Linked DNA regions of Homo sapiens: regions 1 and 2 are each linked to region 3. The links come from fine-mapping of genetic effects on gene expression. A gene starts in region 3. Each other region holds a variant in brackets. All regions are shown on one strand. Distances are from middle to middle.

The links. PIP is the estimated chance that this variant, and not a neighbour inherited with it, causes the effect.
Region 1: its variant is fine-mapped to the expression of DMRT3 in thyroid (GTEx, PIP above 0.99).
Region 2: its variant is fine-mapped to the expression of DMRT3 in thyroid (GTEx, PIP above 0.99).

Annotation. Positions count from the first base shown.
Region 1 is chr9:911,270-915,509 of GRCh38, forward strand. All of the region lies in intron 3 of DMRT1 (doublesex and mab-3 related transcription factor 1), which reads left to right. Among named protein-coding and RNA genes, the nearest start is that of DMRT3, 63 kb to the right of the region's middle. The variant G/A (reference allele first, on the strand shown) is at 2,481.
Region 2 is chr9:998,987-1,003,226 of GRCh38, forward strand. It overlaps the pseudogene RNU6-1073P. Among named protein-coding and RNA genes, the nearest start is that of DMRT3, 24 kb to the left of the region's middle. The variant C/T (reference allele first, on the strand shown) is at 2,252.
Region 3 is chr9:974,362-978,601 of GRCh38, forward strand. DMRT3 (doublesex and mab-3 related transcription factor 3) reads left to right here and starts at 2,294. Exons shown (of 2, transcript NM_021240.4): 1 at 2,294-3,094. The coding sequence starts at 2,641. RefSeq lists enhancers at 1-927, 1,460-1,961, 1,962-2,461.

The DNA of each region.
Region 1 (4,240 bases), 63 kb before region 3:
GATGCCCTGTGGAGGATCAGACTGCCCCTAGTTCAGAACTACTGGTTTAAAGTAAAGTGAGTTTCAAAGGCTTCGTTAATTTCCCATTTTGTTTAAGCCAAAAGTAGCAGGGTTGTGATTTTCTTTTTAAAGTTAGAAGAGAGCAGGAAGTAATTTAGTTTGAAATTGCATTCTGCCATGCCTTTTTCTGGGTTAATTGCATTTTTTTTTTTTTTTTTTTTTTTTTTTTTTTTTTTTTTTTTAGATGGAGTCGCACTCTGTCGCCCAGGCTGGAGTGCAGTGGTGCAATTTCAGCTCACTGCAACCTCTGCCTCCTGGGTTCAAGCGATTCTCCTGCCTCAGCCTCCCAAGTAGCTGGGATTATAGGCGCCTGCCACCACACCCAGCTAATTGTTTGTATTTAGTAGAGACGGAGATTCACCATGTTGGTCAGGCTGGTCTTGAACTCCTGACCTCAGGTGATCCACTCACCACAGCCTTCCAAAATGTTGGGACTGCAGGCGTGAGCCACCGCGCCCATCCATGAATTGCAGTTTTAACATCCTGTTTATATTGCTACACATGCACTTAGAAACACATAGAACTGTCCTTTTCTTCTTATGAGCAAGTTGTCACGTGGATGGGTTGTTTGTGGATTCTTTGAGGTGGATGTAGCTGAAGTGACTGATGACCTCAGTAAGTTCATGTACTAGTCTGTTCTCACACTGCTGTAAAGATACTACCCAAGACTGGGTAATTTATAAATAAAAAAAGAGGTCTAATTAACTCACAGGTCCGCATGGCTGGGGAGGCGTCAGGAAACTTGCAGTCATGTCAGAAGGCGAAGAAGAAGCAGGCACCTTCTCTTCTTCACAAGGCAGCAGGAGAGAGGAGAAAGAGAACAGGGGAAACTGCCAAACACTTTTAAAGCATCAGATCTCAAGAGAACTCCCTCCATATCATGAGAACAGATTGGGGCAACCGCCCCCATGATCCAATCACCACCGCCTACCACGTTCCTTCTTTGACACGTGGAGATTACGGTGTGAGATGAGATTTGAGTGAGGACACAGAGCCAAACCATATCAGTTCACATTCTAGTAACCTCAAATGGAGTCTGACCCTTTGTATCTTTTTCTTCTTTTACTGGAATTCTTTTATAGCTCAGTGATCTTGGGGATTCATTAAGGATAGTGAATGTTTGAATATAAATAACTAAATTCCTATTTCCTAATAGTTCTTTTTATTTCATGCTTTTGGAAAACATGGAAAAGGAATTAAGGGAATAAATAAGCACACGCATGGATTTGAAATTGTGTTTATTTTCCAGTAAGCGTTAGTTAAAAAAAAGAATTTTACTGTTCATCTTCATCTTTTTGTCAAATAATACATACATTGGGATTGGCAGCGTTAGCCAGTCTATTTGTCAGATTTAGCCTGTTTTAGTTAATATAGGGGATTGTTGGGATCTCGTACTTCCAAGGTATATGGACGATATGTTGGTAATTGTAGAGCACTGGTTCTCAATCTCGGTGTCATATTAGAATTAACTGGGATCTTTGAAAATATCCAGGGCCCAGGCCACATCCCAGAGCAGTTAAACCAGATTTTCTTGAGTGGAGTCCAGGCATCAGTACTGAGTTCCCTTCTCACCTTACTCCAGTGAGAGTGAAGTTTGAGAAGGAACCAGTGCCACTGTTTACAAATAAAGTTTTATTGGAACACAGCCATGCCCATTCATTTTACAAATTGCTAGAGACTGTATGGCTTGCCTAAAATATATATACTGTTTGACATTTACAATAAAAAGTTTGCTGACACCTGCTATAGACTCATGATCAACATTTTTCAAACATTTTGAAAGGAAGGTTTGTGTAAACTTTCATAGTAAAAAAAACATCCAGCATTTTGCAGAGCATTTAGGCCCAAATCCTATCTGTTTTCTTGTACCCTGGCAAAATTGAAAAGCATTTTCCTTGAAGAACTGGCTTGAAGATATTGTCAAACCTGAAGTAGATGTGACAAACTCAGCCCCCAGAGCAGGGAGGCTCCATTATTTATATTACGGCTTATGTCGGCACCTTGCTTCTAATTCAGTGTTCACTACTCAGACTGTGTAATTGACTTAAGGAAGTCTATGGAGACACAAATGGCTTTTCAATTCAAAGTGTGTTTGAGTTTTTACTGCTGCAGCAGTTGTAGATGGCAACAGACCCCTGAAAAAAATCTTTTAGTTCTGGGGAATTTTGTGTATAAAAATAAAAAAAGAATGAAAATTAAAAATTGCTATTTACATAGTTTCACTTTTCCAGTTCAGCTGGAAACTGGATGGTTGTAAGCAACTGGTAATTTTTTTTTTTTTTTAAGCTGGGGCAGTGGCTGACACTTGTAATCTCAGCACTTTGGGATGCCGAGGCGGGCGGATCACTTGAGGCCAGGAATTTGAGACCAGCCTAGGCAACATGGAGAAAACGTCTCTACTAAAAATACAAAAATTAGCC[G/A]GACGTGGTGGGGCATGTCTGTAGAGTAGGCTACTCAGGAGGCTGACGCAGGAGAATCGCTTGAAGCCAGGAAGCAGAGGTTGCAGTGAGCCGAGATTGTGCCATTGCACTCCAGCCTGGGCAACAGAGTGAGACTCGGTCTCAAACAATTTTTTTTAAAGGGTTTCCTTTGGTCTTGGGTTCTGAGAGGTACTAAGTATGAGAGGAAGGATCACGTATTCTAGTCCCTGGGCACCAGCAATATCAGCATCTCCAGCCCAGTCTTACCATCAGGACCTGCATTTTAACAGGACCCCCTGGCCATTCATATGCGCATTGAGAGCTGCTGGGAATCATCAAAAGATGCTGCAGTGCTCTAATTGATAACTGGGTGTGTGTAGTAAACAGCTACCATGATTGTCCCTTTTCTCTTAAATGGTTTAGTGGCTTCTTAATGGGCTCTTCTGCTGTGTGGTCTTATTTATTAGGGGTAGCCAGTTTTTCCTTTTTGGCTGTTTTCCGAGTATAGCTTCTTTAACCTTCTATTTAGTAAAGATTTAATGTGGCCAGGCGCGGTGGCTCACGCCTGTAATCCCAGCACTTTGGGAGGCCGAGGCGGGCAGATCACGAGGTCATGAGATCGAGACCATCCTGGCTAACACGGTAAAACCCTGTCTCTTCTAAAAATGCAAAAAATTAGCCAGGCATGGTGGCGGGCGCCTGTAGTCCCAGCTACTCGGGAGGCTGAGGCAGGAGAATGACGTGAACCTGGGAGGCGGAGCTTGCAATGAGCCAATATCATGCCACTGCAGTCCAGCCTGGGCGACAGAGTGGGACTCTGTCTCAAAAAAAAAAAAAAAAAAAAAAAGATTTAATGTAATGGTAGAAAGTGAAAACGGAGTGATTGGCCTAGAAGAGACACCATTTCATATACTTCAGAAAAACAAACTAGAAAGGATAAAGGGGACTTACCCAGGTAAACTTCACTTGAGAGGAAATAATCACCTGTAATGGTATCTTTGCTTCTCCAGAAGAAGTAATCCACTCATGAGAACATAGATTTGAGCTTGAGAGCAGTAGAGATCAAAAATAAATTCCTTGAGCTGCTCAAAGCATCAGGCAGAAATCAGGGACTTAGCTCTTTCTACCAAACAGCACCATAATACCCAAAGTACACTTAAGCCAGTGTTAGTTGGTGAATTGTCCAGAATGTAGATGTTCATAGAAAATCTTGAGGAAGCCCAGTGCCTAATTTTACACTACCAGGCTCTGTCAAGTTAGTGCTATTTTCTTTTTCAAGTACCATTTAAAATACTTGATTGAAAAACATGATTTTGAATTATTTTGGATTATTTTGAAATTACTCATATTTCTGGACAGAATTGGTTTATCTTGAACATTCCCTTAGATCGAATTTTGTTTAAAAGCGAGTACCATCTAAATTTAAGTTTTAAAAGACTGTCATAAATAACTGAAGTCCAGCTCTGTTGTTGCCGTGAAGATGTGATCATGAGTTGAATGCTCGGTGTCTCTAACAGGGTCTAGATGTTCATGGAAGTGGGTCTTACACAATCAGAGTCATCAGGGCCAGGAAAGTGGAAATGGAGGGGGGGCCCTTTCTAAGCCATCAAGTCATATCTTCTTAGCTTTGAATGAGAATCAGGAAGCCACAGGGAATGAACTGCTTCTTATATAAAAGCTATCTCATGGTCCTAAAGGCAGGGTCTGGTTGCCGGAAAAAAATGAATGACTGCTGTGCTCACATGCAGCTGCCACTGGAG
Region 2 (4,240 bases), 25 kb after region 3:
CCTGGAGGCTAGTGGAGGTAAATGCGTGAAGTCGGCGTTTTCCCTCCGCCTGTTAGTCCTCCTCATTCATCTCTCGGCCAAACCAGAAAGATGTGAGGGTATTTCAAAGATATCTTTGCTATATTTTATTTCACTCAAATTCAAGGATCCCTCTCCCAGGACAGCTGTGACTACAGACCATGGGATTCACATCCTCCCACCCCACGGCGCAGGACCGGCAGGGGATCTCCAAGAAGCCCCTAGCCTATGGGTCGCTGAGACCCTCCTAGAAGTTTCAGCCTGGCTGATGACATGCATGTGTGTTGACCACGGCTTGCGGATTAAACTCAGATATGAATTATCTAATGCCGCCATGGAGGAAATGTAATGTTAAGACCCAACTTTATTAAAACTGCTAGGCAAATAATAGAATGCCAGGAAAACCATTTCAGCCATAGTTTCTCCAAGGGGCGCCTATGACTCACTGGATCTGGAATCCCCTGAAGTGTCTGTTCAAACAATTTAGATTCTTAATCCATCTTTAAACCTTCTCAACCAGAACTTCTGGGAGGGGATATCTCCCTCCCTCCCAGGAATCCACAATTGCAATGAGAACCTTGAAGTCCACTCCTGTCCAGGGAACAGCCTTAGAGAACTCAGGCCCTCCAGTGAAGGAGGAAAAGACAAATCTAGTTGTAATACTTGAAGTATATTGCTCATCTGTAAATTACCCACCCAGGTGAATAAAACACTCTCTCAGGGTAAAAGCACATGTGAATTTGTCCAAATCATTGTAATAAGGCTCCTGGGGGTGGGGGGTGGTTAACATCAGTGATCAGCAGCAACTATTAATACTAACTACATCATCCCCACAGGGCTTGGGGTGCAAGGACAGTTATTTGCCCTTCATAGTTATGGATTGGTTCGATCAATTAAAAGAAAAATTACCCAAAGAGAATTTTTCTTTTTTTAAACTCAGAGTGAGACCCAGTCAGTAAGCATTTTGAACTGTGGGTGGAGGACCCAGTTGCCTTACAAGTGTGCCTTTGAAGGAGGAGGAGGAAGAGAGGAAGAAAGGAGAAGTGAAGACGGAGACTCTCTTTGGGCAAAGCGGGGCTTTCAGCACGTTCGGTGGTACAGCTCTGACCCTGGCCAATCATGGCACTGACCTATGCCACCATATGGGGGTGGATCGAGGTGGGTGGTGGCATCTGGGATCTCTGCTTGGCTTCCCGGTTGAAAGGAATATCCTCTGCAGCTCCACCGGGGAGCAGGGCGGACAAGGTGAGATAGTTAAGTCTACAGGAAGGAGGGAGGATTGTGGTTTCTGAGCTGGCCTCCCTCTCCCAAGGGGTGGGAGGGAGGCCTGGAGCAACCTCAGCTGAGATCCATTAGCTCCGGCCCCCACCAGAAGCACGGGCATGATGAGTGTTTGGAGGACAAGGGAAGTGAGCCCACCTGTGCCTGGGAGCACCAGCATCTGCTGCAGCTATTATGGCAGGGAGAGGAAAGGGCACTGCAAAAGCCAGCGCGGCCTGCAGAGGATACACCCATAGGTAGTGGGCTTGACCCTCAGTGAGTAGAAGGGATAGGGAGAATAAAATGCATTCCCGTTGTGGCCTAAAGGCCTCCCAACTGGAAGGAAGCCAGGCAAGCCTGACCAGACAGCGGGTTCCAGTGGCCATTTGCCCAGGAGAGTAGCCACTCTGTGGGTGGGATCAAGTCCTTCCTACAGCATCGCATACAGTTATTCACACACCAGAGCTTTGGTGACTTGTTCTGAGCCTAGCTGGACCCAGATACCTTTGTTTTCCAGTTTTCCTGATAAATTAGCGCCAAAGAAGGAAGAGCTCATTAATCAACTGTCTTGGTCCATATATAAGACACCAGTTAAACTTGAATTTCAGATAATCAGTGAATAATTTTTTATCATAAGGATGTCCCAGGCTGAATTTGTATAGGTATATATTTTTATGTGTGTGTGTGTGTGTGTGTGTGTGTGTGTATATATATATATAACTATGTCCAGGGAATAGTATGTAAGTATAATATATAATACTGATACATGTAGCATATGATATAATACTTATATAATATTCCCTGGACATAATTATGCTCTACAATATATGTATGGCCTATACATACTTATACTAAAAAATTATCCATTGTTTATCCAAAGTTGAATTCAACTGGGCATCCTATGTTTTTGTTAGCTAAATCTTGTAACCCTACCGGAAGCGATGTGTCTGTGGTATGACTATAGCTGTCGCCT[C/T]GGTCATGTCCCTGCAGTTAAGAAAACAGGAAAGCTGAAGTGGTAACAAAATGGGCTGAAGGCCTAATCCAGCCCTCAGGTGTATTTTGTTTGATTAGTACAGAGTTTTTGTTTTCATTTTCAAGTAATTGCCAACATTGAAAAATCCAGAGATCTCACGTATGCACCGAGTGTTTAGGCATTTCTGGAAAAGGTGGAAGATCTGTCAATATCGTATGGAAACAAATTAGATGTTCCCTGTCTTGGTCTCACTCATTTGTGCTTCTTTCCTGTAGCTGAATTTGGGACAGATCCATGTAGGGTATTCAATTCCCTAAAATTTTCCCTAGAACAGGGAGGAACTTTTTTTGGGGTGCTGGAATCCCTGAGTGCCTGTTGAGCCTGACCAGGCTGATCTAAAGCAGGAGGGCTCTTTACCCCTCACCCTCGACGTCTGACCTGGAGACTTGCTCCTTATAAGGCTTACATGTGACCTGGGACAGGTCCCTTGCTTCTCCCAGGGTCTCTATTTTCATCCCTAAAACAAGGGGACAACTATCCATGTTTCCCAACTTTTTTGTACCAAAAGTTCTGTTTTGTCAACCTTATGCCACTGTGGTTCCAGTTTTTGCTTGTTTGTTTGTTTTATAGAATGGTTCACAAATTTGTGAGTCATCCTTGCTCAGGGCCACGCTAATGTTCTCTCTGTCATTCCGATTTTGGTATGTGTGCTGCTGAAGCGAGCACATGGACCCGATGTTTTCAAAGATCTGTCTACCCAAGCAAATGACATATGTTACAAACAGCCTGTAAGTTCTGGCCTGCCTGAAAGCTAACTGGTTTCATCACACCACATGGGTCAAATTCCCTCTAAAAGCAAAACCATTTTGTAAGCTCCTGTAACCTTGCTGAAAATAGGAATGCCTTTAAAGCCAGTAAGGGCTGGGTGGGGTAGCCTAGGTTACACTTCACTAACACACTCCAAAATTTCAGTGGTTTAACACATAAAGGTTTATTTTAAAACTTTAACCCGTGCAGAATCTGCCATGGGTTTGGCAGCTCTTTAGGCAGTGACACAAGAATTGTTTCCTTTTTTTTTTTGAGACAGAATCTCACTCTGTCGCCTAGGCTGGAGTGCTGTGGCATGATCTCGGCTCACAGCAACTTCCGCTTCCCAGGTTCAAATGATTCTCCTGCCTCAGCCTGCTGAGTAGCTGGGATTACAGGCATGCACCACCATACCTGGCTAGTTTTTTATAGTTTTAGTAGAGACGGGGTTTCACCATGTTGGACAGGCTGGTCTTGAACTCCTGACCTTGGGCGATCTGCCCTCCCAAAATGCTGGGATTACAGCCACTCTGGCTTTAGTTTCCTTCTTTACTGTGGCTTGACCATTTCCACACGTGGTTTTCCTGGCAGGGGAGGGTGTGCTGGTGGGCTTTCCAGGGCCTCACCTCTGCTCACATTTCATTGGCTGGATCCAGTGCCATGGCTTCACTTAGAGGAAAGGGCTAGGAGGTAGAGTTTTCTGCATGCCTGGGAAGCTGTGGAGAAAAGCATACAATGAAACTAAGAGGTGACACCACAGGGACATGAGCCCTTTCAGTTCCAAAATCCTACATTCTGTCATTCTTCAGAGTGGTCACATGGTGTGGTCTGTAGATACACTGGCTTGACCTTTAAGATGACTGACTGCTGTCAAGCAGAACAGATGCTACAGATATGTTGAGCTTTAAGTAGTTCCAAATCCTATGTTTCCTTCCTGATGATAATAGCTTTTTTTTTTTTTTTTTTAGACAGAGTTTCGCTCTTGTCACCCAGGCTGGAGTGCAATGGCTCGATCTCTGCTCACTGCAACCTCTGCCTCCCAGGTTCAAGCAATTCTCCTGCCTCAGCCTCCCAAGGAGCTGGGATTATGAGCGCCCAACACCACACCCAGCTAATTTTTATACTTTTAGTAGAGATGGGGTTTCACCATGTTGGCCAGGCTGATCTCAAACTCCTGACCTC
Region 3 (4,240 bases):
AAATACTGGGATATGGAAAACATTCCCATCAAATATGAGAAAAGGATTACTGCACTATATCAAATGAGTATTTAGATCTCAGCCCCCGATGTGCACCGGAGTGAAACGGGCCCCCGGGACCAAATGCCAGACTGTTTGAGTGGCAACGAGATAGGGTGGCTAGGTGACCGACGGGGGAAAAGGGGTCGCCTTGGTAGTGAAAGTGCCCCCACAAACCTGGTGCAGAGCTCTTCTGCTTTCCTTTTAAAAATTTATTCATACTCAAGTTCTTTATACTTCCTCGTTTCACTGTTTGAAGAAAATCGGAAGAAATTTGGTTTTGAAAAAAGTCGTTGGTCCCCACGTTTCCAAGAGATCCGGAGGTTTCAGCGCAATAGTTTTCAGTTAAGGTGTCATTTGAGGCCCTCTATATCGCAGCACGTTAAATGACTCGCGTCCAGCTCCCCATTTCCTAGCCTCGGGCCTACAGGGCTGGGGGCGACCTCTGCCTCCCGTCCCCAGAGCTTACAAAATTCCTTCCAGTTGTATTTTAGGGCTTGTTTTCCTAGAGAAGGTTGAGACTAGAGGAAGGATTAAAGTGGTGGGGGAAGGGGCAAGACCGAGGGGTCCCTACCCCACGCGGCTTTGGAGGATGGCCTCCCAGGGTTAGCACTCGAATGCTAGAGCTTCTTGTCCACACTCTACCAGGTCAGTGTCCCGCGATCCCCACCTCCCGGACGCGTATGAAACGGGAACAGCTAAGGGCTTCAAGGGAAACACACAACTGGGGTTCGGTTTTCAACCCTCCTCTCCGCAAATCAGCCTTCTGGGCAGAGGGTTGGCTGCTAGAACGCCTGGAGGTGCTTCCCTTGAATTCATGGCAAACACCAGAGGAAAGTTTTCAGGTTGCTTGCTTACTTCCAGGGCAGTACAGAGAAAAGCGGCCTCCCCGAGGGGACAAGGGCCTCTGTGCCCATGAGGGGTCGGACATTGCAGCGGACTTGCCTACGCTCTCATCTAGCATTTGATTCCCCACCAGGAGATGGGCTTGGTGCACGCTCTCAGAAGCGCATCCACCGAAGGCTCTGGAACTGCCCCGCTTCGCATAGAGCTATTGTGCTGCCCTGCAGTGTATCCACTTGTTTTGTTTGTTTGTTTGTTTTTTGGTTTTTGCTTGTTTGCTGATGGGCAGTGGGGAGGTGCGAGGGTGGAGGGCCTTCTTTGTGCATATATAGCGATAGTCTGCACTAGGCCAAGCCCGCTACTCCTGGGAGAATGGGAACACGCAAATAATCTAAACAAAGTTTTCTGCTGTCATCTTGTGAAGGACCCTCTCCCCCAAGACATCTATGACTGGGGTCTATGGGTTAAGGAGGTGAAAAAGTGGCCCCATCCCATATCCATAACTGAATCACAGAATCCGTGGGGATTTGAACTGAGTGGCTGGCGCAAGACCTCCGTTTGCTTCCAGTAGCTGCTGGGAGCGAGGGAAGAGGATATCGGTAACTTTGGGGGCGCCAATGTGGCTTCTGTGTCTGCCCCTTGAAAGTTTATACCCGGCGCTTAACAAATCCTTTACAGGAGCACGTACGTCCCTGACCTTTCAGGATACTGTTTTATATTAAAACATGGACAGGAGGGTAGAAAAGTAAAATTCGCCTGCAAAATGGCTTGTCATCCTTGGGCCGGCAGATCTCCAAAACCATTTTCTTCTAAAGCAACAAAAGAGAAAAAAATACGTTCTAAAAGGAAATTACGAAAAGAGCCTAACTTTCCTAAACCAACATCACTTCACTCCCCTATCCTAAACTCCACCCAGGTCCGGGGTGCAACCGCAACACTCCCGTAGGTTCGAGTTCTCCCGGAGCTGAGCTTCTGCGGCCAAATGTCGGGATAAAAGCGGCCTTGGGCTCGGAAAAACGCGGCCAGATCTGGACTGGAGGGAGGAGAAGAGAGAGAAGCGGAGCGGCCACCTCACTCGCTTACAGGCACCCCCACCCTCACTCCCGCTGGTCCTCCCCTTCTCCGCCCCGCGAGCACCGCCGCGTTCTGGAGCGCCGCAGTCTCCAGCCGCGGGCTGGGGTAGCGGAGAGGGCTTGGAGGAGGGGGCCGCGAGCGCCCCCGCGAGAGTGGCCTGGCTGCAGGTGGCAAGGAAGGTGAAGTGCAGGCACCCGAGGGGCGCAAAGGAGGAGGAAGGCGTGGGGCGGGGAGTGCAAGGAGACAGGGACCCCAGGGGCGGGGGTGGCGGTGGGAAGGAGGAGGGGTTGGGGGAGGGCGGCGGAGGTGTTGGGTCCGGCCGGCTCACGAGGGAGCTGCAGAAGAGCTGGCTCAGACCTTAATCAGAGCTGTCGCCGGCTCCTTGCAGCCGCCGCAGCGCCTCCGCGAAGGAGGACGTGCCGACCCGGCTGCGCGCCCAAGGCAGAGGCCCGCGTCGGCGTTGGCTGGGCGTGAGCTGGGAGGCCGAGCTGTGAGCGCGAAGGGAGCTGGAGAGACGACTGCGGCACCTCCGGCCGCCCCGGAGCACACACGACCACCGGGGCTGCGGGACCAAGGGCCGCGTCGCCCGGAGGCCGCCCCTGAGCGGGCCTCGCAGCCCCGCCGTCCAGCGCTCCCTGGCCCTCTCCCGCAGCCAGGCTGCCAACTCATTCGGGAGCCCGGGGCATGAACGGCTACGGCTCCCCCTACCTGTACATGGGCGGCCCGGTGTCGCAGCCGCCACGGGCGCCCCTGCAGCGCACGCCCAAGTGCGCGCGCTGCCGCAACCATGGCGTCCTGTCCTGGCTCAAGGGCCACAAGCGTTACTGCCGCTTCAAGGACTGCACCTGCGAGAAGTGCATCCTCATCATCGAGCGGCAGCGGGTCATGGCTGCGCAGGTGGCGCTGCGCCGGCAGCAGGCCAACGAGAGCTTGGAGAGCCTCATCCCCGACTCGCTGCGCGCTCTGCCAGGGCCCCCGCCGCCGGGGGACGCCGTCGCCGCCCCGCAGCCGCCGCCAGCCTCTCAGCCGTCGCAGCCGCAGCCGCCGCGCCCTGCTGCCGAGTTGGCCGCGGCCGCCGCGCTGCGTTGGACTGCCGAGCCGCAGCCCGGGGCTCTGCAGGCGCAGCTCGCCAAGCCAGGTAAGAGCGTCTGAGGTGCGGGAGTTTGGCCGGGCGCGGGGGCAACTTCGGAGTGCCAGCTGCAGCTCCACTTGGGAGGACTGGAGGCAAAGTTTTGGGACGTGGGCCTGTCGGGGCTTTCCTTCCTACTCTCCGCCAGGCCGGGGCTTCCTCTCCCGGGAGAAGCCGGCTGAGTCTGGACCCAGCGCGAGTGGCACTCGCGCCCGCAGGGAAGGCGCCTCCGGGCAGCCAAACGACGGGACTGTGCGTCAGTATCGCCAGGTGCCTTCCCAGGTTGAAGGGTTCGGAACGTGTCAGATTGAGCAGGGAGACAACGGAGTTGAGACAGGACAAAATTAAAACCCACGTGCGCACACTCACTACGGTGGGGTCGGATTTTCCTGGCTGCAGGCTTTAGAGGTCCTTGCCATTTGGGGGTTGGAATGGGTAGGTAGGTGTAGGGAAGGAGCCAAGGCCAACACTCGGCTGAGTCGAGCTGGCTGTGCTTCTCGGCCGGCCCGGCCCTGCCCAGGGCCCAGGAAAATTTGAGTGAGGACAAGTATCCAACTCTCAGAACCCTGGCCTTTCTAGCTTTGCTCCGTGGCCTCCAGACTCTTGTAACTGGTGAAATAAGTTCCATTTAGCAATGATAGTAAAAGGGTCCGGAAAGGCTTGTGAGCTGATAGCGGGAAAAGAATCTGATGCGCCCAGAATTCACTCCTTTGCAGAACCTCCTAGATCCTTTAACACTGTTCCCCAGGCTGCCCTCAGCTGTCTTCGTGGTTTAAAGGAATACAAAAAATCTGATCCCCCACCACCCATCCGTTTCCATCCAGGCCTCCTGAGCTTGGCAGGCCTGAGTTGAGTCTCTTAGTCTCTCTCTTCCTGGGGAATTTCTAGCTTGCGGTTCTGCCCAGCTCAAGAGCTCTTTTGATGGCTCTTGGAATTCAGTGGATATGTGTTTGGTGTTTCTCCTTAACTGGGGCAAATGTGCAAAGGAACACAGCCCACCTTCTCCCGGAAGGGGGCATGCTGGAATTAGGAGTGGGAAGGTCCAGAGCCCTCCTGTAAGTAGAACTGTGGCAAAACTGGTACCTACACTGACCTGCCAACTCCCTAAAGACGGTACCCCTAGCTTCGGAGAAAGGCTTTCAGGAGCCCAGGACT